7 linked regions of the Homo sapiens genome follow. The protein of the gene in region 6 purifies or fractionates together with the protein of the main gene of each other region. This does not show direct contact. Each region holds a gene or a part of one and is shown on either strand. Other genes may lie near its edges. The genes, in order: CSE1L, FLNB, PGM1, DEK, USP16, TXNL1 and PAWR.

The links.
Region 1: the proteins of TXNL1 (region 6) and CSE1L fractionate together in Homo sapiens (co-fractionation; one large-scale study listed by BioGRID). This does not show direct contact.
Region 2: the proteins of TXNL1 (region 6) and FLNB fractionate together in Homo sapiens (co-fractionation; one large-scale study listed by BioGRID). This does not show direct contact.
Region 3: the proteins of TXNL1 (region 6) and PGM1 fractionate together in Homo sapiens (co-fractionation; one large-scale study listed by BioGRID). This does not show direct contact.
Region 4: the proteins of TXNL1 (region 6) and DEK fractionate together in Homo sapiens (co-fractionation; one large-scale study listed by BioGRID). This does not show direct contact.
Region 5: the proteins of TXNL1 (region 6) and USP16 fractionate together in Homo sapiens (co-fractionation; one large-scale study listed by BioGRID). This does not show direct contact.
Region 7: the proteins of TXNL1 (region 6) and PAWR fractionate together in Homo sapiens (co-fractionation; one large-scale study listed by BioGRID). This does not show direct contact.

The regions. Positions count from the first base shown.
Region 1 is NC_000020.11:49,070,312-49,073,811, forward strand, and holds part of CSE1L (exportin-2), read left to right. Parts: intron 1-1,974; coding exon 1,975-2,142; intron 2,143-2,256; coding exon 2,257-2,386; intron 2,387-3,500. UniProt on the Homo sapiens protein: Export receptor for importin-alpha. Mediates importin-alpha re-export from the nucleus to the cytoplasm after import substrates (cargos) have been released into the nucleoplasm.
Region 2 is NC_000003.12:58,144,422-58,147,921, reverse strand, and holds part of FLNB (filamin-B), read right to left. Parts: intron 2,002-3,500; coding exon 1,873-2,001; intron 1,103-1,872; coding exon 929-1,102; intron 1-928. UniProt on the Homo sapiens protein: Connects cell membrane constituents to the actin cytoskeleton. May promote orthogonal branching of actin filaments and links actin filaments to membrane glycoproteins. Anchors various transmembrane proteins to the actin cytoskeleton.
Region 3 is NC_000001.11:63,599,911-63,603,410, reverse strand, and holds part of PGM1 (phosphoglucomutase-1), read right to left. Parts: intron 1-3,500. UniProt on the Homo sapiens protein: Catalyzes the reversible isomerization of alpha-D-glucose 1-phosphate to alpha-D-glucose 6-phosphate. The mechanism proceeds via the intermediate compound alpha-D-glucose 1,6-bisphosphate.
Region 4 is NC_000006.12:18,237,031-18,240,530, forward strand, and holds part of DEK (protein DEK), read right to left. Parts: intron 487-3,500; coding exon 351-486; intron 1-350. UniProt on the Homo sapiens protein: Involved in chromatin organization.
Region 5 is NC_000021.9:29,051,828-29,054,988, reverse strand, and holds the end of USP16 (ubiquitin carboxyl-terminal hydrolase 16), read right to left. Parts: intron 1,188-3,161; coding exon 1,031-1,187; intron 924-1,030; coding exon 802-923; 3' UTR 501-801; downstream 1-500. UniProt on the Homo sapiens protein: Specifically deubiquitinates 'Lys-120' of histone H2A (H2AK119Ub), a specific tag for epigenetic transcriptional repression, thereby acting as a coactivator.
Region 6 is NC_000018.10:56,628,593-56,632,092, reverse strand, and holds part of TXNL1 (thioredoxin-like protein 1), read left to right. Parts: intron 1-3,500. UniProt on the Homo sapiens protein: Active thioredoxin with a redox potential of about -250 mV.
Region 7 is NC_000012.12:79,584,379-79,587,171, reverse strand, and holds the end of PAWR (PRKC apoptosis WT1 regulator protein), read left to right. Parts: 3' UTR 1-2,293; downstream 2,294-2,793. UniProt on the Homo sapiens protein: Pro-apoptotic protein capable of selectively inducing apoptosis in cancer cells, sensitizing the cells to diverse apoptotic stimuli and causing regression of tumors in animal models.

The sequences.
Region 1 (3,500 bases), on a different chromosome or scaffold from region 6:
TGTTGCCTGAGTGGTCTTTTTCTTTCATTAAGAGTTATTTGGCTACAGTCTGGAAACCTATTTACTCTTGCATTGTTAAAAGATAAAATTTCAATACTGTAATAATATTTGATTCTATTTGATGTTACATGTTTGGTGTGTGTAGTATACAGAATTACTCTTATCATGGGCTTGGCTTAAGCCATAGTGTACATATAAGGCTGTTTCATTACATTATTGAAAGTAGGTCTTTAAAGTAGTGACATTATGGATATTTCATGAAATAAAATTATTTTTCATTGAAGATACTAAGAAAACTTAAAACTCTATAATGGTAGCCCCTTTTTAAAAATCATCTGGCTAGGCATGGTGGTTCACACCTGTAATCCCAGCACTTTGGGCGGCCAAGGTGGGGAGGATCCCTTGAGCCCAGGAGTTCAAGACCAGCCTTGGCAATGTAAGGAGACCCCCATCACTACAAAAAATAAAAATAAAATTAGCCAGATGTGTTGGCTCATGCTAATGGTCACAGCTACTCAGAAGGCTTAGTTGTGAGGATCCCTTGACCTTGAGCCCAGGAGGGCAAGGCTGCAATGAGCTGTGACCATGCCACTGCACTCCAGCCTGGGAGACAGAGGGAGACCTCGTCTCAGAAAAAGAAAAAATTATCCACAGCTCGAGAAAGAGAGAAAATGGTAAAAGATTGTAATTTGTAAATATTTCTGATATGGGTTTTATATTGTGTACTTTTAAACATATAACACTTATTCTGTGCTACTCATTTGTTAATATATTTATGACCTTCTTTCCGAAGAGACAAAAGACAAAATATTAAAAATATTTCAATACCAAATAAACTAAAAATTAGAATTGGTGATTCAAATCAGGTTTTAAGAGTGGGGTACAGAAAGAAATTGTTACTATCGTTGTACAACAGATTTTGTCTCAGAGTTTGACTATATTAATAGGAACTTTAAAAGATGTAGCTCTCATAAAATAATTATTTCAGTCCAATGGGAGGGAAAAACACTCCTTCAGAAAACAAAACTTTTCTTCACACAAAAGTCACAAGGAAATTTTTTGGATAGAATTCTTACAAGGACCTTTTTGCCCAGTTAACCATGTGCTACCTTGTGCTACTATTTATGCCTTAAGTAATCAGTGTGAGGGAGTTTTGGTTTTGGCTTTGGTTTTTGTTCTTACTCTGATGTCTTCCCTTGTCTCACTCTGTCACCAAGGCTGGAGTGCAGTGGCATGATCATGACTTACTGCAGCTTCGACCTCCCTGGGCTCAAGTGATCCTCCCACCTCAGCCTCCCAAGTAGCAGGGACTATGGGTATGCACCACCATGCCCAGCTGATTTTTTTTATTTTGGGGGCTTGCTGTGTTGCCCAGGCTAGACTCAAAACTCCTGGGCTTGGCCCGTCGCAGTGGCCCACGCCTATAATCCCAGCACTTTGGGAGGCCGAGGCCATCCTGGCTAACACGGTGAAACCCCGTCTCTACTAAAAAAAAAAAATACAAAAATTAGCCGGGCGTGATGGCGGGTGCCTGTAGTCCCAGCTACTTGGGAGGCTGAGGCAGGAGAATGACGTGAACCCAGGAGGCGGAGCTTGCAGTGAGCTGAGATCGCGCCACTGCACTCCAGCCTGGGCAACAGAGGGAGACTGCGTCTCAAAAAAAAAAAAAAAAAACCACTCCTGGCCTCAGGCCATCCTCCAGCCTCAGCCTCCCAGAGGGTTGGGATTACCGGCGTGAGCCACTACACTCAGCCAGAATATACTGTTTGAATCTAATACGGAAATATTTTGTAATTCAGCAACTTATTTGAAAGACTTGGTGAAAAGATTGGTGGTGGCATAGCTGTAGTTTACAATAACTGATTTGATTTGGATTTAATTGATAAAGAGTCTAGTTCAGGAATTTCAGTTACTCCTCTTACTTATGTTAGCATTAGAGTTGTATGTTGGAGTTTTTGTTTTCTTTTATGTGAGGATGAAGAGGAAGCCGGCTTATTGGAGCTCTTAAAATCCCAGATTTGTGATAATGCCGCACTCTATGCACAAAAGTACGATGAAGAATTCCAGCGATACCTGCCTCGTTTTGTTACAGCCATCTGGAATTTACTAGTTACAACGGGTCAAGAGGTTAAATATGATTTGGTAAGATGATGGTGGAGACAAATAATTAAAAGACATTCTCTCCCTATCTCCTCCAAGAAATAAGCTGTTGAGTTTTGCTTTTAAAAATATTCTTGTTTTTGTGTTTTGTTCCAGTTGGTAAGTAATGCAATTCAATTTCTGGCTTCAGTTTGTGAGAGACCTCATTATAAGAATCTATTTGAGGACCAGAACACGCTGACAAGTATCTGTGAAAAGGTTATTGTGCCTAACATGGAATTTAGAGGTAATTATGGCAAAAGTATATTAGTATAAATCTACTAAGTCTGTGTTTGTTTTTTGTAACATATTCAGTCTAATTCATTTATTACTGGATAAAACTTGTATGTCATTTATTTCTTATTTTCTAAACCAAGACAGAAAATGTAGTATCTGTAATGAGTTTTGTTGTGCCCTGTGAGGGTTTTCTCATGGAAATATTAAATAAGACTTCAAAAATTCCTTTACACTAAGAAGATAAACTATCTGGAATTTCTATTTAGAGAAAGAATTTGATTTTGTTTCATTTATTATTTCAATGAATTTTTAGCTGGCTTTATTTATTTATATATTTATTTGAGACAGGGGTCTCGCTCTGTCACCCAGGCTGGAGTGCAGTGATGCAATCTTGGCTCACTGCAACCTTAGCCTCCCAGGCTCAAGTGATCCTCCTACCTCAGTCTTCTGAGTAGCTGGGACCACAGGCACACATCACCATGCCTGGCTAATTTCTTGTATTTTTGGTAGAGACAGGGTTTCACCATGTTGTTCAGGGTAGTCTCAAACTCTTGAGCTCAAGCAGTCCACCCGCTTTAGCCTCCCAAAGTGCTGGGATTGCATTTCTGAGCCACCTCGCCCAGAAATAGCTGTTTTTAAACAATCGACTTGAGAATAGAAATGATAACTTTATAAATACAAGGTTGAAGCCCACTTAGTTTGTGCTTAAGGTTAAACTATAGTGCTAAGAGCCTATATTTATAAAATGTATGTCCTTGTTCTAACAGTTGTGAAGAACAAGTAATGAAGGTGGGAGGGATTGTGTTTTTTGTTTTGGGGACAGGGTCTCACTGTGTCACCCAGGCTGGAGTGCAGTAGCACAGTTATGGCTTACTGCAACCTCAACTTCCCAGGCTCAAGTCATTGTCCCACCCTGGCCTCCTGAGTAGCTGGGACTACAGACGTGCACCACCATGCTCAGCTAGTTTTTTATTTTTTATAAAGATGGGGGTCTTCCTATGTTGCACAGGCTGGTCTCAAACTCCTAGCTTCAAACAATCCTTCTGCCTCAGCCTCTCAAAGTGCTGGGATTACAGGCATGAGCCACCATGCCAGGCCAAGATTTTGTTTTATATCAAAATAGT
Region 2 (3,500 bases), on a different chromosome or scaffold from region 6:
TTGAGAGGCTGAGGCAGACGAATCACTTGAGGTCAGGAGTTCAAGACCAGCCTGTCCAACATGGTGAAACTTCATCTCTATTAAAAATACAAAAATAAGCTGGGTGTGGTGGTGGGTGCTGTAATCCCAGCTATTCAGGAGGCTGAGGCAGGAGAATCGCTTGAACCCAGGAGGTAGAGGTCACAGTGAGCCGAGATCATGCCACTAAAACTCCAGCCTGGGTGATAGAGTGAGACTCTGTCTCAAAAATAAAATAAAATATAGGAATTTTTGTTAGTTGAAGGCACCTCATACCTGCCTGGCATGGCTGTGGGCATTTCTAGGTAAACAATGACCACATTCCACACAGTACTACTGGCTGCTTCACAGACAGGTCTAAATACGGTGGGGAAACAGGATCTGCCTTGTGCATCTTCCTTATAACCCACTGAAAGCATAACCTGAACACAGCAAGGTGAGGAGCATGGGCTTTGGAATTTGATAACCTGGATCTGTTTACCTATATGTGAACTTGGCTACACCACTACCTTGCCAAGCCTCAGTTTTCCCATCTGTAAAAGGGATAGCAGAAAATTTACCTAGTAGTGACGCTGAAGGGCATGTCTAAGCTCATGCACTTCATGCACTATTGCAGTAAGTATGATTCGAACACTCCATCTGAGAGCTTTCTCTTTGCACCCTAGAGTCACACTGGCACAATAAAAGTGTGCTCCAAATACTAGCTCTCGCATTTTCCTGGATTATCAGCAAGAGAAGGATTTAGCTAATCCAAAATTGCATTCCATCCCCTGCTCCTCCTCAACAAGTCTCTGTGAAACCTAAACTCAAAGAGACGTCTAGCCTGCTGCCAGGGGTCTGATAAGGAGGGTGGCAGTCAGAGGCAGCCATACTTCCCACGAGGAAGACCCCAGAAGCCAGACAACCCTACCTGTGATCTTGGCTGTGAAGGGGCTGCCAGGGATGTGCTTGTCATTGTACTTGACCAGAATGCTGTAGTCGCCTGGCAGAGTCGGCAGGTAGGTCACTGTGCATGTCCCATCTTTATTGTCAATGCAGCTGATTTCTGCTTTTGAGGGGCCCTCAATAGCCAAGTCCAGACCACCTACAAGTGGGAACAGGGATGCAGGGGTGTTAGGGAGAGAGTTGCCTTGTTTTAAGAGTTTCCTTTTAACAACTCATCCAGGGCAGCCCTGATGCTGGGGACAATGGATTGACGCACTCCACGTGAGCTGTGGGCAAAGGGACATCTGTCAGAATGAAGCAGTCCACGCAGTAAAAACACCCACTGAGAAGAAACCCCAAACATCTGAGTTCTTCACTGCAAGTAACCCTGGAGCTCTCTCTACTCTCAGGATGCATGGGATGAGAAAAGGAAGGAGCCGTGTACATCAATTACACATAGGAGACGGTGGGTGGTGGAGGGCAGAGGTGGATTGTCCCTGCCCATCAGGCACTGGCTGCCATCACGGAAATCCCATTAGAACCACAGATTTGGGATTATCCATGAATACCACGGGAATGGGCACACAGCTTTATCAAAAAGAGCCACTCAGTAAGTCATGTGGTCTTGTGGATACATGTGCAACAAGAACAAAAACATCACCAACCAAAACACACTTAAATTCCAGACAAGTCACATAAAGTATTTCATAGCATGAATCTGATTTCAGTTAGAACACAAAGGACTTCAAAAATGTCTGTCTGGGTAGAAGACGAAGCGGCTCTAAAGAAGAAACAGATTTACACGAGAGAAAAGACAAGACAAATACTACCATTCGATTGTCTCACTTTTAAAAGCCACCCTGGAACCGTGTCCACTTCACCCTCCAAATGGACAGCTGGAGGCGTATAAACACGTAAACCACACAGTACCTTCTCCTGCATCCTCTGTGACGATGGTGAAGGTGGCAGTTTTGTTGGCCACTCCATACACGAGGCCTGGACCGTATGCAGAAACACTTCCACTGTTGGGGTAGTTCACGTAGAACTGGAGTGGGCTCTCTGGGTTTACGAAGGACACAAACAAAATTGGTGCTCATTAAGGGGTGAACGAAGACCCTGGACAACTGGCATCTTGACGTCCACCTCTCTACAGGTCTGGCGCCTCCTAAGCAGAGGCATGAAGAGACAGAAGGAGATGCACATGCACCTCCCATCCCCCGCCATCCTAGGACATCAGAGAGGGTCTACGCAGTATTATTCCTTCAATCACAACATAAGAAAAACAATCCTGGAAGCTGCTCCAGATGAGGAAGGGGGCTAAGGTAAGGTACCAGCCCAACCTGACAAATAAGGAAGAAACTTTTGCACTGGGTGGTGAAAGGACCCATGGCCAGAGGGAAGGTAAGTGGAAAGGGCTTTTGGAAGGCCATTTGCCCATGCCATTCAACCTGTAAGGAATCAACCCCACAGTGGTCTTCTCTGCCCACCCCGACTCCTAGCCCTATGTAAGCACTTTCATTTCTGCAGTGTTCGGGTGCACATCAGGAAAAGACCTAAGTGTTCACAACAGGGGACCGGTTAAATAAATGCTGATCTACTCATGGGCCATTAAAAAGAGTGAGGAAGACCCATGTTTACTGACTTGAGAAATTATCCATAATATGATGCATTAAAAAGAAAAAAAGCAAGTTGCTATAAACTATGAATACCATTATGCTATTCCTTTAAAAACAAAATAGAATAAAATTATATGTATGTTTGTAGATACAGAGAGAAACATCTGAAAAGATACACAACTCACACCAGCAGTGGAAGTGGATGGCAGATGTGAGAAAGACATTTTTTCCTCTCTCTCCATCTGCCGCTTTAGAATATTTAAATAGAAGCAGATAATACATTTTTGCTTTAAACCAATATTACATACAGACAACTAAAGTAAATGCCAATCTCAGAGAAACATTTGCAACTCCTACCACAAAGGGCTAATCTCTCCAATGTTTACATTGCTCTTAGAAACTATATGACAAAGGCCAATAACCAAATAGAAAAACAGGCCGTGGATCCAAATGTTCAGTTCACAGAAAAAGAAATACAAATAGACATAGGGAAAGTTGTGTGGTCTCATTCACAAGAGAAATACAAATAAAGCAACGCTGAGATTCTGTTTCTTTCCAACCATCAGACTGGCAAAGCTCCAAAAATTTGATACCATATTCTACTGGCAAATTTTGTGGAAAAGAAGGTGCTCTTCTCCATGGCCAGAGGGCGTGTGAACTGCAACAGCCCCTCTGAAGGGCAATTTGGCAAGATCTGTCAAAATCATAGATGCCTGCACTGGGGCCCTAGCATTGCCTCCTCTGGTAACTAAATCTCACAGATACATCTTTGTGAGTGTGAGGTGACTAGGGGAAAAGTCGATTTGCGCAGCAACACTGGGGACAGCGAGGGCAGGAAGAACCAAAATGCCCTCCAATAGGGAAATGGTCAAATATGTAATGGTTCGTCCACATGAGGGAAGGCTGGGAAGACACTCTCTTATATATCTGTATTTCCGTTTG
Region 3 (3,500 bases), on a different chromosome or scaffold from region 6:
ACTTACATAGCAAGATCTCCGCACTTCCCTACTCCACATACTCATTTCCTGCTTAAAACTGCCCAGATTAGCATTATCCTCAGCCACTCTCAGTGGGAACCTGGTATTTGGAACATGGCCCAACACCCCTTACATTCTAGGAAGAGTGGGGGCAGTTCCCAGGCTCTTTTCCTGACTTTGTGACCTGGGACACCTGAAAGGTTTGTTGTAGACAGGAAATAAGGCCATGCATGTGGCAGTAACTTGTAAAATAGAAAACATGAGGTACATTTTTAGTGCAGTTGCTCCTTGCAGAGTATGAAACAAAAATACGGAGTTGGGGGGCAGTGAGGGGAGCTTTCTCTTAAACATGCCAAATTCTCTCACCTATGGTTCTGCCTGGAACATTCCTCTCTGCTCTTCACCTTCAGGTCTGGTTTTAGTTGTCACTTCCCTACTCCCTCTGCTGGAACCAGGCACGCCTCCTTTATGCTTTCCTAGCCTCCTTTGCTCACCTCCATCCCAGTGCTGACAGCACCTTGTGGCAGTTCTCTGCTTGTCCGTAACCCACCTAGCCTCCAACACAAACCTTCACCTTAAGTCCCAAGCATGTGAGGACTGGGCCTGTATTGTTCTCTGCTGCAACCTACGAGATCACCATGAAGTTTCACCAATCAGCTCATTTTGAGCTCCCTGCCAGTTTACAATCCTCACACTTGTCGGTTTAGCCCCCAAATGGCTATGACACCATGCAGATTAAGCCCTCCGGACTCACACAATGTAGTAGCCATTTCAATTCACTCTTGAGCAACATTTCAATTCACTTGTGAGCACATTGGAGTACAACATACAGGACTAATATTTGGTCAGAAGGACTTTTGTCACTTACCTCATAACTCTACATGTGGTGACCTGGTTAGAAAATACTTATTGGGCTGAATCAATCACACTCAAAGCAGCCAAGAACAAATTCATATATTAGTTGCCAAAATAAGCCATATGGTATACATGGATATTAAAACAAAATTTCACCTTCCCTGCATGCCCTTAATGGCAGTTTAAAAAGAAGAAACTTAAATCTGAGAAGATTCTTGTATAATATAGATGGTCCTATCAACCCAGCATGGTATAGATTGGTATTTCCCAAAATTCTTCTGTTTGGGGTCCTTTTACAAACTCTCAGTACTCATATATTAAAAGCTCTGAAACTCCTACTTAACATTGCCCAAGCCAGTTTCTCCATGCTATTAACCAGCATATTATAACAATCCCCAGAACTACTTGCTCTGGGATATATTTATTTATGGAAAAGACCAACCAGATGAAATATCAGAAGACTGGAGTCCCTGTTCCAACACCATTAGCATACTGGACAAGTCAACCAAATATTTCTGTCCTACCACCTATCGCATTTCATCCTTCAAAAACACTTTGGGGTACTCATAGAGAAAAAAAGAACATCTTTCCAATATGAAAACATAATTTTCCAAGTGTTTCTGATTCATGATTAAATCTTTATTGGCATGACTTAATTAGCATTCCCCACTGTGTTAATTCAGGGCTGTCTTTATGCCTTGGGGAATCAGCTCAGTGGTGATTTGGAGAAGCTATGGGAAGGAGGACTTCCAACAGCTGAAGTTTAAAAAACTAAACAAAACAAAACCCAGCTTACATCCATCCGCGTATCCCAACACTAAGCACAGCCTTCTCACCCTTTCCAAACAACTCCCTATGCTGCCCCCTTGTGATTTCTTTCCCCTTTGAGGACCCCAGGGGAGAAAAGTCTTCTCCGCAGTCCTCCCAACTGAAGCCCTCGGCTAGCCATTACTTACTTAACACACTCAGGAGCCATTTTTCAAAGGTGGATCCCAACTGTGAGCACAGCTTCAAAGTCAGCAGAATAACTGGCTATGTCTGTGTGGGCCTCAAGGGAACTTGGAGGAGAATAAAGGGATCAGTTCAAACTTTCCTGCTTCACTTTCTTAGAAGTGTAGCTCACTCAAATCAATCTGCTGAAAGCTCTTCTAAAGTCTAAAGGGGTCCAGACTACACCACTGTGACATAAAAATTATTTTGAGCCAGTCATTTAAAAATAGGCTTTTTACTAAACTCCTTCATCTGTCTTAAAAGCAGTGTGCCCCAAAGGAACTCTGGAGTTTCACAACCAGGGAAGATCGACTCATTACCATAACTAAATAGACACTGGCATAAAACTACCACATCTCCTATCTAGTCTCTTAAGGGCTGATTTATCTCTCCTAAAGTCGTGGTTTCCAGCAAATGCTCTTCTCCTCTTCCGCCTTCCCCTACTGAGATGATGTATAGGCCCCCAAGTCTAACTGCCTCCTGTCACATTTTTCTGTAAACTCCCACAAATGTCTTTTTGTTGCTCATTTGTCTTTTACATTTAATTTGCAAGCCCCCAGTATATAACCTAGGAGGGTAGATGAAAAGTTTTCCCTACCCTAGAGTCCAAGAGAGAAAAAAATTATTGTTAAATATTTGATCAATGTTGATTACACATCTTATTATCCCAAGATAAATTTATAATAGAATAATACTTATAATCTATATGCAAAATGTCATAGTATATTGGGACCCTTTGTACGATAAAATGTATGCTACATTTATTTACCTGAGGCATAATTTTATAACATTAAATGATTATATGTGTTTATCCTTTCCATCTAACTCTTCCTCTGTCTGGAAGTCTTTTCACGGATATCTGCATGGCTCACTCCTTCACTTCATTCAGGTCTCTGCTCTCATGAGGTTTATCAGACATCCCAATTGCTGCACTAAAAAGAGCAGCCCATCCTCTAATGCTGTCCCCTTTACTGGGTTTTATTTTTCTTCAGAGAACTTATCTTCATTTGACACGTTTATCATCTGTCAGGCTCAACGAGAACCCCACAGCTCTGTAGAGCAGAAACTTTGTTCAATTCACTGTTGTATCCGTAGTACCGAGAACCTAATAGGTGCTCAATAAATATTTATTGAATGAGTCACTCTTTCCAAAACAGTAGAGCACTCTTCCCTGTTATCTTGTTTACAAAAACAAAACAAACCCTCTATCTCAGAAAGGGAGAACGTTTTTCTTTTTCTTCTACAAAATTTCATGAGCATTAGATTTGATTAAAAAAGAAAAAGGAAAAAGATGTTTCACCAAGAGCATTAGTGAAGCCAAGAAAGAAAAAGTCCCAAGCAAGCTGATTTAAGTATTTTATGTAACAAAGATTGTTTAGTGACTAAGTGTCCGGCTCTAAAAAAGAGTCCTGCCTATTCTCTCTTTCTCACTTCTCTCGGCAGGTCCCCTTCCTGAAGGGTAGCCCCATCTTCTATCGCACACTATCCGCTCTTCAAGACATAATTGGTTTTAGGTGCAGGCACCTCTTCTTTCCCAATCCAAAATGTTCTCTCTCTCGCTGAGCTCAGCATGTTTTCTAATTCTGTTCTTTGTATGTCTATGTGTTTCTTCTGTCTTATCTCCCCCAAAAGATTGTATGCTCCTGGATGGAAAG
Region 4 (3,500 bases), on a different chromosome or scaffold from region 6:
ACAGTGAGCTGTAACGGCACCACTGCAATAAATAATTTATTTAGTTAAAATATTAAACTACCTTCAGGCTATTTAAGATGAATATGAAACATGAATGAATTTCATGTTTAGACTGGGTCCCATCCCCAAGATATCTCTCTCTCTGTCTCTCTCTCTATATATATATATTGCAAAATCTGAATCACTTCCTGTCCCAAGCATTTCAGATAAGGGATATTCAACCTGTATTACTTCTCCCCGCAATGTTCTCTGCAGTTTACCTGTTTCTCCCACACACTTAAATACTATGTACAACATATTAATATATGCTATATCTTTAAAGTTGCTGATTAATGTTATTTCTAACATACCTTTTTTGGAACTGTTTTGATTCTTCTTGGTGGTGCTGCTATCTGCTTTCTTAACATTGGCACTTTTCACAGATTTTTTACTTTTAGAAGTAGCTTTCTGTTTAGGTTTTTCTCTTTTGGCTGTCTTTTTTGGTGGCTGTTACAAAAGAAAGTAAAAGTACACATATTGATGAGATTCAATGCTATCCCATCCCATCCCTCTACTTCCCCTATGCCCCTTAATAATATTAGAGAAAACCAATATATTTGGTATCAGCAATTAAAAATTCTTTTTGAGAGATGACTAATATACAACAATTTTATCCCAACACAAGTCTAAGCATGACAAATCACAATCACACACACACAAGAGTTGCCCATATTTATTCAACACTATGGATAAACTACATATGCATTACTCTACTTAATCTTGGGGGGGACCCCTAAATATAGATAATATTATCTTCTCTTATTTATGTTCTCTCTCTTTCAACTGGAATCTTTTTTTTTTTTTTTTTTTTTTTTGAGACAGAGTCTTGCTGCGTCACCCTGGCTGGAGTGCAGTGGCCCGATCTTGGTTCACTGCAACCTCTGCCCTCCCGGGTTCAAGCGAATTCTCCTGTCTCTGCCTCCCTAGTAGCTGGGATTACAGGTGCTCGCCACCACACCCGGCTAATTTTTGTATTTTTAGTAGAGATGAGGTTTTGCCATGTTGGCCAGGCTGGTCTTGAACTCCTGACCTCAGATGATCTGCCTGCCTTGGCCTCCCAAAGTGCTGGGATTACAGGCATGAGCCACCACACCTGGCCTAGAATCTTGTGTTCACTGATGTTTCCCTAACTCCTAAAATAGTCTCTGGTATACAGTAGTTGCTCAATAAATACTTATGACTATATGAGGAAACTAAGGCTCAGTGTGGTTACCTTGTCCACAGTCACATTAATAAACATGCAAGATTCAAATATAGATGTGACTCCAGAACTTGTGTTCTTAAACACTAACCCATAGGTGATTAGACACAAACAAAATACATAAATATGGATAGATTAAAATGACAGGCCAGGCATGGTGGCTCATGCCTGTAATTCCAGCACTTTGGGAGGTCAAGGCGGGCGGATCATGAGATCAAGAGACTGAGACCATCCTGGTCAACATGGTGAAACACTGTCTCTCCTAAAAATACAAAAATTAGCTGGGTGTGGTGGTGGGCACCTGTAGTCTCAGCTACTCAGGAGGCTGAGGCAAGAGAATTGCTTGAACCCTGGAGATGGAGGTTGCAGTGAGTGGAGATCATGACACTGCACTCCAGGAGAGAGACTGTCTCAAAAAAAAAAAAAAAAAGACAAAATCAGAGTTCATACTTTGTCTCATGTGGAGCCTGTGAAATTAGAAAGCATTAATTCTTAGTTTAATTAATGTTCCCAAAGGAAAAGCTTCCTATTAAACATTCCAAGATATTTTAAATTCTCCCATTTACACACTAAAACTACTGCGATCACTTGACAGAACGTTTCTCCAAATGTTTAACACTCTTGATTCCTGAGAGTTATCCTAAAGCAACCTGGTTTTTTTTTTTGAGATGGAGTCTCGCTCTTGTTGCCCAGGCAGGAGCAGGAGTGCAATGGCATGATCTCGGCTCACCGCAACCTCTGCCTCCCGGGTTCAAGTGATTCTCCTGCCTCAGCCTCTTGAGTAGCTGGGATTACAGGCATGCGCCACCACACCCGGCTACTTTTGTATTTTTAGTAGAGACGGGGTTTCTCCATGTTGGCCAGGCTGGTCAGGAACTCCCGACCTCAGGTGATCCACTCACTTTGGTCTCTCAAAGTGCTGGGATTACAGCCGTGAGCCACTGTGCCCGGCCAAGTCAACCTGTTTTTAAAGACATAAGCACTGTGTTGAACCTATCCTTTAGATTAAAGTATACACATCAATCTGTTCCAAAAGTGGCCTCAAGCTATTCATTGGATTTTAGTGTCTTTTTTTTTTTTTTTTTTTTTTTAAAAAAAAGAGATGGTCTCGCTATGTTACCCATGCTAGACTCAAACAATCCTCCCACCTCAGGCTCCTGAGTAGTTGGGACTACAGGCACACACCACCTCACCTGGCTGGATTTTAGTGTTTGTCTTTCTTTTTGCTAATATACCATCACTGTACCTATTTATACAAGCCTATCATCACCCTGCACTACCTCAACAATATACCACTGGCTGGGAAGCATGTAGTTTAACTGCTACTAAAAAATACATTTTTAAGGTGTCAAGGGGCTGACATGCTTCTAAAAGTAAGTACATGAATTTCCCATGGACTTTTGCGATTTACAGGCCATTTTAACTTACTTCCTAATCCTAAGAGATGTTCTAGATGGTGTGGGGCTATGGGACAAGTATCAATGATTTGTCGTTTTTTTATGACGAACTTAAACTAAGTTTTAAGGTTCATTAAGTGTCCACCCAGTTCATGTGAACTATATATTAGGCTCTGAAAGGGAATCCTAAAAATTCTTAAGTTCTTTAGCACACTTAATACACAGAATACAATAATCATGATTATATATCATTTTTTAGTTAAACGGTAATAAAATCTGGACTTGCAGGTACAAGAAAGTAAGTTATTACTGAAAGGGTTGAAGGTTGAGCAAAAGAAACAATATCATCAATAATTACTCAATCTCCATTCAAATTAGAAAATCAGAATTAGATAACTAAAATACTTCCAAAGCCTTTTAAGGCTTGCCATTAAAATTTTAGATGTGATACACAACATGACATCATTTTAAAACCTGCAAATTGTGAGTAGTGACAGTTTGTCAAAGCATAAACATTTATAATAATAAATAACAAGCCATCTCCATAAAATCTTACTTCTGTATAACAAAACCACATCTTTCTACATTTCATATCTGCTGTAAAGGATAATGTTCTACAGTTTTTCTAAACGGACAACCAGGCCTGTCATCTATTAAAATTTCTAAAAGACTGCAAATATACTGCACAAGCACTAAAGAAAAATATACGACATAATAGTTCAAAGAGTACAGGCTCTAGCAGCAAGCTGCCTGGTTTCAAATTCCAGCCCCAGTACATCTCTGGGCCCTTGTCTCATTTACAAAACAAAAGAAACAATAGTTCCTATGGTTTTATGGGGAGTAGATACATTAACAGATGAAAA
Region 5 (3,161 bases), on a different chromosome or scaffold from region 6:
AAGGCTTATAAAGAAACATTGCTCCCATTTATATTCTGCTGTCAATATAGATGCTTATAAAATTAACACACTTGTATGGCCCAGCGCGGTGGCTCAAGCCTGTAATCCCAGCACTTTGGGAGGCCAAGGCAGGTGGATCACGAGGTCAGGAGATCGAGACCATCCTGGCTAACACGGTGAAACCCTGTCTCTACTAAAAATACAAATAATTAGCTGGGCGTGGTGGCGGGCGCCTGTAGTCCCAGCTGCTCGGGAGGCTGAGACAGGAGAATGGCGTGAACCTAGGAGGCAGAGCTTGCAGTAAGCTGAGATCGCACCACTGCACTCCAGCCTGGGCGACAGAGCAAGACTCCGTCTCAAAAAAAAAAAAAAAAAAAAAAAAAAAAAATTAACACACTTGTAATGAAGCTTCATTAGCCAGTCTGATGAAATATTTTTTAAAGTGTTACCTAGTAGGATAAGTCAATAGAAGTTAAAATCTTCCCAGTAATAAAACAAGATTTTAGGGTAAGTCAGTTTATTGATGTGTTGTGATCCATCACCCAGATATATTAAACACAAAGTACTTAAGTAATTCAGGATTTCCTTTCCAGAAACAAAGCAGGAATAAAAACCACTATGACAATATAAAACCTTTGTACATTTTTAGGTATTTTTCCCTTCAATATTTAAATAAACATGATTTCTTCTGGCATGTATTTAATGTTAAGTGAACATGATTTTAATTAGTCTTTTTTTATCGTTATTTCAGCCATTATAAAAGCCATAAATGTGTTTCCAGAAAAAGTGCTTTTGATATTATTACAGTATTCTCTCATAAAATAGGAGGTACGCTTGTGAGTTTAGTACTTTAGTTGTAGGCACAGCTTGCACATGTGTGTCGCTGATGTGAAACCACTGCCCTTTTGATTCCATTTCAAAATCTGTCATGAGAAAATGAAAAATCAAACATAAATGGAAAGATTCAAGTTGATTACTTTTTGGTTTTGCCGTAATCTGCTGAGTGCCTGAATTTTCCAAGACATCTTACCTTGTGGAATATCACCGTGAAGAACAAGATTAGAGAGATGACTATTTGCGGTTCTTGCCTTGGCATAGGCAGTGTAATGCCCCGACCTCATAGTACCACTGTGTTCAACAACTCCATATAAGGAATAGAGTACCCTTGTATTTTCTTCTGCAACATTCTTTAAAAATGAGTAGAATCCAAAAGTTAGTTCTAGTTCCATTTACACAGATGTCATGGGCAAGACAAGTTTACACTATGCAAAGGGTCTTTAACCATTACTTTGAGAGTGCAGAAATCATTCATGAGTCTACTCTTTTCTCCATACCTCTTCTCAGCCTGAGACACTTCTGTTTTTATTATAAATTCACCATTGTTCCCCTGGTAGAAAAGCTGTAAGCCACAGGCCACTTGATGCAGTTACCTGGCTCAGATACCAAATAACTGAATTCAACTTGCCAGTTTCTTTAGGAGCCTGAGGATAATTCTTAACAACCCTAGCTATTAACAACTCTGAATACCCTGTTTAAAAAAAGGTAAGCCCTGAACAGGAAGAGAACAGTATTTTAGGTTGTGCCAAAAATTACCCCTTACATCTTTAAATGTCCCCAAGGGAGTTGGTGAGAAGCACATTCAACCTCTCAAGTGTTCACTTTCCCCACGAGAGAGTGCACGCTGCTTATTCTTTCAGGACTCTATATGCCATAGGGCTGGCAACAGGAACAGGCATTCTCTGGGCCAGGAGCCACTTTTCAGACAACTATTTATGTTCTCATGTAAAAGTCCGTAACAGGCATCACGGCCCTTCAGTAGTACTGTCTCCTATACTCAGCTTCCCAATCTGTGCCTCCATATTCACTGAAGAACTTAGTACTTCTCCGTCCATCTATGATTCTCACAGGACTTTAAATGCCATTCCATTTTAGTCAACCACACCCAGGACTAGAGTCTGGGCTTGTCATCACTCAGAATTGTTCAACTTCATAAAATTTTTTTTGAGACAGGGTCTCACTCCGTCACCCAGGCTGGAGTGCAGTGGCATGATCTCAGCTCAATGCAACCTCTGCCTCCTGGGCTCAAGTGATCCTCCCGCCTCAGCCTCTGGAATAGCTGGGACTACAGGTGCACACCACCATGACCTGCTAAATTAATTTTTTGTAGAGATGGGGTTTCAGCATGTTGCCTGGGCTGGTCTCAAACTCCTGAGCTGAAGGGACATAAATCTTATTTTTAGTCTTAGTCCACAAGTCTTCTATTTATTCAACTCTCATCTCACCTATTCTGTACTCTTTAACCTAACAGGATCTCCAATGCTCATATTCTCCTCACCTATGAAGACTTTTGGCTTCATTCCTGATATGGTTTGGCTGTGTCCCTACCCAAATCTCATCTTGAGTTGTAGCTCCCACAATTCCCACATGTCATGGGAGGGTACCCGTTGGGACGCAACTGAATCATGGGAGCAGGTCTTTCCCATCCTTATTCTTGATAGTGAATAAGCCTCATGAGAGCTGATGGTTTCTTAAGGGGGAGTTTCCCTCCACAAGCTCTTGCTTTGCCCGCTGCCATCCATGTAAGATGTGACGTGCTCCTCCTTGCCTTCCGCCATGACTGTGAGGCCTCCCCAGCCATGTGGAACTGTAAACCTCTTTCTTTTGTAAATTGCCCAGTCTTGCCCAGTATATCTTGTCCAGTATATCTTTATCAGCAGCATGGAAACTGACATAATATAATTCCCATATGCAGTCTAGACCATTGCTATTCAAAATGTGGTCCATGAACAGCCAGCATCAGCATCACCTGAGAGTTTACATTAAACATGCAGAATTTTTGATCCCATACTAGACCTACAGAATCAAAATTTGTAGGTCTGATTCCCACATACACATTAAAGTTTGGGAACTTCAATCACATGTATCACTTACAAATAATCTCCTCCATATCCAATTCATCACAAAACCTCACCCTGAATCCTATAATGTACCTGCCATGCCCCAAACCCAGATGGCCACTACTGCCAAGAAACAAAAGTATAATAAATGATCATGTACCTTGTCATAGTCCTCAATGTGACCATAATCTTATAAATTGTCCTTAGCGGCCTCTTCCATTATGCCCATCACAGCAACTGGCCCAGACTTTTTTTTTTTTTTGA
Region 6 (3,500 bases):
TTGGATTATATTTATGAATTGCCTGTTCTAGTGGTGGCCCTGCCGCCAACTAGGATGTTTGGTGTTGGGCAGGTCATCTTATGATCTTCACTTCTTACTTACTGGTTAATTATATTAGGTTATGTCTGTTTTAAAGTTTTAGTTTTGTGGGTTCCTTTTTTTTTTTTTTTTTGAGACAGAGTTTCGCTGTTTTTGCCTAGGCTAGAGTTCAATGGCGCAATCTCGTCTCACTGTGACCTCTGCCTCCCAGGTTCAAACGATTCTCCTGCCTCAGCCTCCCAAGTAGCTGAGATTACAGGCATGCGTTACTAGGCCCAGCTAATTTTGTATTTTTAGTAGAGACGGGGGTTTCACCATGTTGGTTAGGCTGGTCTCGAACTCCTGACCTCAGGTGATCCACCAGCCTTGGCCTCCCCACAGTGCTGGGATTACAGGCGTGAGCCACTGCGCCCGGCTGGGTTTATTTCTTTATACATTGTAGAAAGCTAGCGGTTTACTGTATTCTTTTTCTCAAACAGCATAACTCAAAATCCTTCTAACATACACATTTTATATATTGGACTAAGCAGATAAGTTTTCAGTCAGAAGGTTTAGAGTAGAAAAGTAACTTTTTTTTTTTCTTCATTTTAAATGTCTGGACTAGGTGATCTCTTGAACCTTTTGCAGTGAAATAAGAAATCGTAGATTGTGCAAAGGGCAGCTAATCAAGGTGTGTGCAAGAGAAAAAGGTGTAATTCTGAAATTCAAGCATACTGGGTGCATAATATTGTAGAGCTGGGAAAAGTCCTTGGAGAGTCCTTTTATTTTATACAGAGAAATCAGGTGACTTGTTCATGATCTCAGCTAATGGAAATTTGTTTACTCTCAACTGCTCCTGTTAAGGAGACAGACATCTTATGTAAAATGATCAATTGGCTGGGCACAGTGGCTCACACTTGTAATCCCAGTACTTTGGGAGGCTGAGGTGGGAGAATCACTTGAGTCTAGGAGTTTGAGACCAGCCTGGGCAACATAGGCAGACCTCGTGTCTTCAAAACATCAAAAATTGGCAGGGTATGGTGGCACGTGCCTGTAGTCTCAGCTGCTTGGGAGGCTGAGGTGGAAGGATCACTTGAGCCTGAGGGAATGAGGCTGCAGTGAGCCATGATTATGCCACTGCACTCAACCTGGGTGACAGAGTGAAACCCTAAAAAAAAAAAGAAAAAAGAAAATGATCGATTTATTTGAATGATTGTTTTGTGAAAGTGTGCTGCTGTATATATTTGTGAGTTTGTATATATTTATGCTTCTCTGCTGATGCATTTTGATTTTTGACCAAAGTTCCAACCTCTGATGGCTAACTGAAATTAAAGAATCTAGATAAAGTTAAATCTTGAAACAGTTTTTTGCACAGTAACCATAATTTTAATAGTCTGTTCAGCTGCAAGATGTGTGTCTGTAACACCAGTTAGCTCGTAAATAATTGATGAATAGAGAGATGTCAATGTGATATGGAAGTTGTATTGGTTCATGTGTGATTATTCCTAGGTAGTGAAAAATAGAAATAAAACCTTCATCTGGAAGCAGAAAGCTCTCAGCCACACAGGCAAATTCCCTCTCTTGTTTATTTTAAGAAAGTTAATGAAGTTAAATAAGAGTGCCTACACCTAGCGTTTGTTCCCCAGAAGGGTTTATTTTCAGTGTTGCATTTTCTCCTGTCCCTTCCTTAATGGCAGCCCCACTGGCTCAGAGCTCCACTTCAGTCTGCTTTGTCACAACACCTGTAAGCATCATTTCCAGTTGATTTTGTTCTTTTCAAATATTCCCCAAGGTCGCTTCCAGCTCTGAGCCACATGCTGGGATGTCCATCTTTTTCCTGAATCCTAGTTACTGTCTTTTTTTTTTTTTTTCTTTTCCAAGTTGGAGTCTTGCTCTGTTGCCCAGGCTGGAGTGCACGATCTTGGTGACCTTGGCTTAACTACAACCTTCCGGGTTCAAGTGATTCTCCTTCCTCAGCCTCCCGAATAGCTGGGACTATAGGCATCCGCTATCACGCCTGGCTAATTTTTGTACTTTTAGTCGAGATGGGGTTTCACCTTGTTGGCCAGGCTGGTCTTGAACTCCCACCCTAAAGTGATCCACCTGCCTTGGCCTCCCAAAGTGCTGAGATTACAGGCATGAGCCATCATCGGGCCCAGTCTGGTTACTATCTTTCTTACTGATCTTGTTACAAAATTGCATGGGTTTCAAGTAGTTTGCCAACAAACTTATTTTTCCCATAAATTCTCTCTTTTTGGTGTGTGTTTTTGCAGGAGGGTGGTTTTCATGAATGGATATATTGTACTATAGAATGGATACCTCTGTAATTTGTGACACCTGTGTAAATGCAGTTAACACTAAATTCTTCTCAACTCATTTAATATTTTAAAATGAAAATACCTATTCATCACAAAAAAGCAAAGGATGCAGAATTATGGATACTAACTGTTCATTGTGCCTGTCTCTGTCTTTTTACCCCCTATGCATTTATATATATACATAGGTTTGAAATGTGATCCTAGAGAACATTTTATAATGAGACTTTCTTCCCCCCTAAACACTGCAAAGTATCAGGCTGGGGTGCAGTGGTGTGATCTTGGCTCACCGCAACCTCCGCTTCCCGGGTGCAAGTGATTCTCCTGCTTCAGCCTTCTGAGTAGCTGGGATTACAGGCATGCGCCACCATGCCTGGCTAATTTTTGTATTTTTAGTAGAGATGGGGTTTCACCATGTTGGCCTGGCTGATCTAGAACTCCTGGACTCAAGTGATCCGCCCATCTTGGCCTCCCAAAGTGCTGGGATTATAGGCGTGAGCCAGCGTGCCTGGCCCCTGTCATAACTTTTTAAACTAGTTTTCCATTAATTGCCATTTAAGTTGTTTTCTAACTTTACTATTACAAACATGTTACATTGAACTTCCTTATACTACATGTTATTGTGAAATAGAGTAAGTGTTGTTAAAATGGAATAGACTTTCAAAAGGGCAATTATTGGGTCTTGGCTTGTGTTCATCTAAAATGAATAGATATGACCCAATCAGTGGCCTTTGAAAAACAGTGTAGTGATATATATTCCCATTTATAAAGTTTAAGACTAATTTTAGTTGACTGTAAATATTATTTTCTTAGATTTTTGGTGTATGGCTTTCAGGATAACACAAGGTGAAATGCTGATTGAAATGTTAAGAATGTGGAGTTGATCACAACTTGAGTTTTAACATTTGTTTTTATTTTGTGCATTAGATTTGCTTTTTCTTGCATTTCTTATTTCTGCAAACTTTTATTGAGACATACATGGCACACAATTAGAAATGTATAGTTCAATTAATTTTCACAAACTGAACACACCTATTTAATCAGCTTCCAGACAAACAAAACATTGCTAGCCTCCAGAAGTCTTATTCTATCAGTAACTCACTAAGGTAACCATTGTCTTGATTTCTGATACCATTGATTGGTTTTGTCTGTATTTGAACTGTATGT
Region 7 (2,793 bases), on a different chromosome or scaffold from region 6:
AGTAAATTTTTCCAAGGTCACATAATCTTACATGAAATGGAACCTTTCATCTTAGACTTCATCAAACTCAATTTTTTCCCTTCTAGATTCACTTTGTGTTTATGCATGCATGCACGCGTGCACACAATTCTATCAGCAGCTGTAAACTACCCACATATTTTCTTAATCTCATTTTTTCAGTTTTTCTTCATCTTTAAAAGAGGTTACATTTCATTCCTGGTCAACTCTTAAAAAGAATTATGTAATGTTGGGCCTTCATATTAAAGAGAGAGACTGGTTATAAGATCCTTTACAGTCCATTCATTTTATTCTGATGTCTAACCAGATAGACACTAGCAAGCAAAACTTCCCTCTTAATCCTGGACCAAATGCATAATTTTACTGTCACTTTCAAAAATCTGTTATGACTGAATCAAAATCCTTTTAAAGAAAGGAAAAAGCTCCTTTTGTGTCAAATAGTTGAACAACATGAAAACAGTATGAGCCGGTTAAAGATAGATTGAATTTTTACTTTACACATATGAAAAACAGTAAGTTTTGACTGCTGTGTATGTTATTCATGTTAATATGTGCTCAGTTATTCACTATTGTTAATCCACATATAATCAGTTGCTATCCCTGGTTAGACACACTATGGAACTTGAAATGCACAATATTTACATTGTTAGAGGCTTCTATCCAAATATCTGCATTCCTTTAAAATGTGAACTATTTGCTGTGATTAACCAAAGGTAGATTATGTCATCAGTGGACATTTTAGCTTTATGGAAACAAATTATTAAGAAATGAATAGAAAGGTGTCTTTTTCTTTGTGTAGTGCAAAAGCCTAAAGCTATCAGTCAAAGGCCTAAGAAATCCACATTTGAAAAACGTAAATCATGATTGGTAAGAATACATTCATCTGATAGTATTGAGAAAAGTTGAAAAACTGTTAGCCTTCCATAACACATTAAACATTTTATGTATGGATGGCTGAAAGTATTGAGAAAAGCTGAAAAACTGTTAGCCTTCCATAACACATTAAACGTTTTGTGTATGGATGGCTTAGGACAATAAACAACATCATTAAAGTAAAATTATGTCAGTCTGTTCATATTAACTTATTTAAATCAATGAAAATTTTGATGAGATGACTAAATGGATGCTTTGGAAATGCAGGATTATAGGAGGCCTAAAAGTGCATCTTGTTTCTTGTAACCCTTTTAAAACCAATATGCCTGGCTAGGTGCAGTGGCTCATGCCTGTAATACCAACGGGGTAACACAGGGTTATGCCGTCTATACAAAAAAATAAATGAGCTGGGCAAGATGGCATGCACCTGTAGTCCCAGCTGCTTGGTAGGCTGAGGGGGAAGGATTGCTTGAGCCTGGGAGGTCGAGACTGCAGTGAGCCAAGATCACACCACTGCACTCCAGCCTGGGTGACAGAGCAAGACTCTACCTCAAAAATAAAAATAATCAATATAGTTTCAATGAAGCAAAGCATCTCAGGTAACAATTTGAGCATAACTTTAACCATAACTTATGATAGCATAATAACATTCATTAGTAATTCAGTAGCCGTATGTGCCAGGCTGTGTTAGGTGCTTTATATATTGTTTAATTTTTAAAAACTTGTGGAGTGTACAGATTGGTAAGGTGACATTGTATCACAAAGCTAGTCTTTGAGTCCAAAGTTTTGTGGTTTTATGTTATGATATACTTTTATCATGGAATTGTCTTATTAAATGTTTTGCCAGTGGTTCTTAAAGTGTGTTTCTGACACCAGTAGCATTGACTTCACTTAGAAACCTGTTAGAAATACAAATTATTTGGCCCCACCCAACACTTGAGTCACAAACTTTGCAGATGGGGCTCAATCTGTTTTAACAAGCGCTTCATGTAATTTTGATGCAGGCCTAAGTTTTTGAGCCACTGCAGTATGCATTTCTATTTTTAAGCAAAGATCTTGGTCTTTCTTTTTGGACATTGTAGAAATAACATGAACTTGTTTTTTGTTTGTTTTTGTTTTGTTTTGTTTTAAGCTCCTGATCTTTGTTGGTTATGTTGCAAAAGATTGTATCAGGAGAAGCCTCAGCATGGACATTGGCATCCTGACATAACCCCCATTAATTTAGTATTCTTTCTGAAACTCAAATGGATTCTCAAGTCCAAGAGACTATGGAATAAAATCATTGTTTGTCTGTGTTAAGTTTTATCTCTGTTATTGCCTGAAGACTTTTGGTAACAATAATGCGCTTTCATCAAACTTTTAAGACTTGATTGGAAAAAATAAATGTATGTTTCATCAGTTATACAATTTGTTTTGTATGTGTTTTGTATGGGTGGTCCCTGAGGAGCCTGAATCTTCAAAATATACTTTCTGTGAGCTCAGAAAATGAATAGCACTTTTGAGCTAATTGATCAGTGTGGAGAAATCACAGTGTTGCATCCTGATGAGTAAAGATAAAATTGACTCTTTATCGATTCAAGATCATTTTTTATATAAATAAATAAGCTACTCCTGTTTACTTTTTACAAACTTGAGAACAGTTTTAGATTTATAAAGTTATTGTGAAGATAGTACAGAGGGTTCTCATATGCCACCACACCAAGTTTCTCCTACTAACATCATACATTAATACTGTGCATTTATCACAGTTAATCGTCCAATATTTATGCACGATTATTAAAGTCCATACTTGATTCAGATTTCCTAAATTTTCCCCTAATGTCCTTTCTCTTTTCCAGTGTCCAGTCCAGGATACTACATTATATTTAGTACCTGTGTCTCCATAAAATTCTCTTGGCTGTG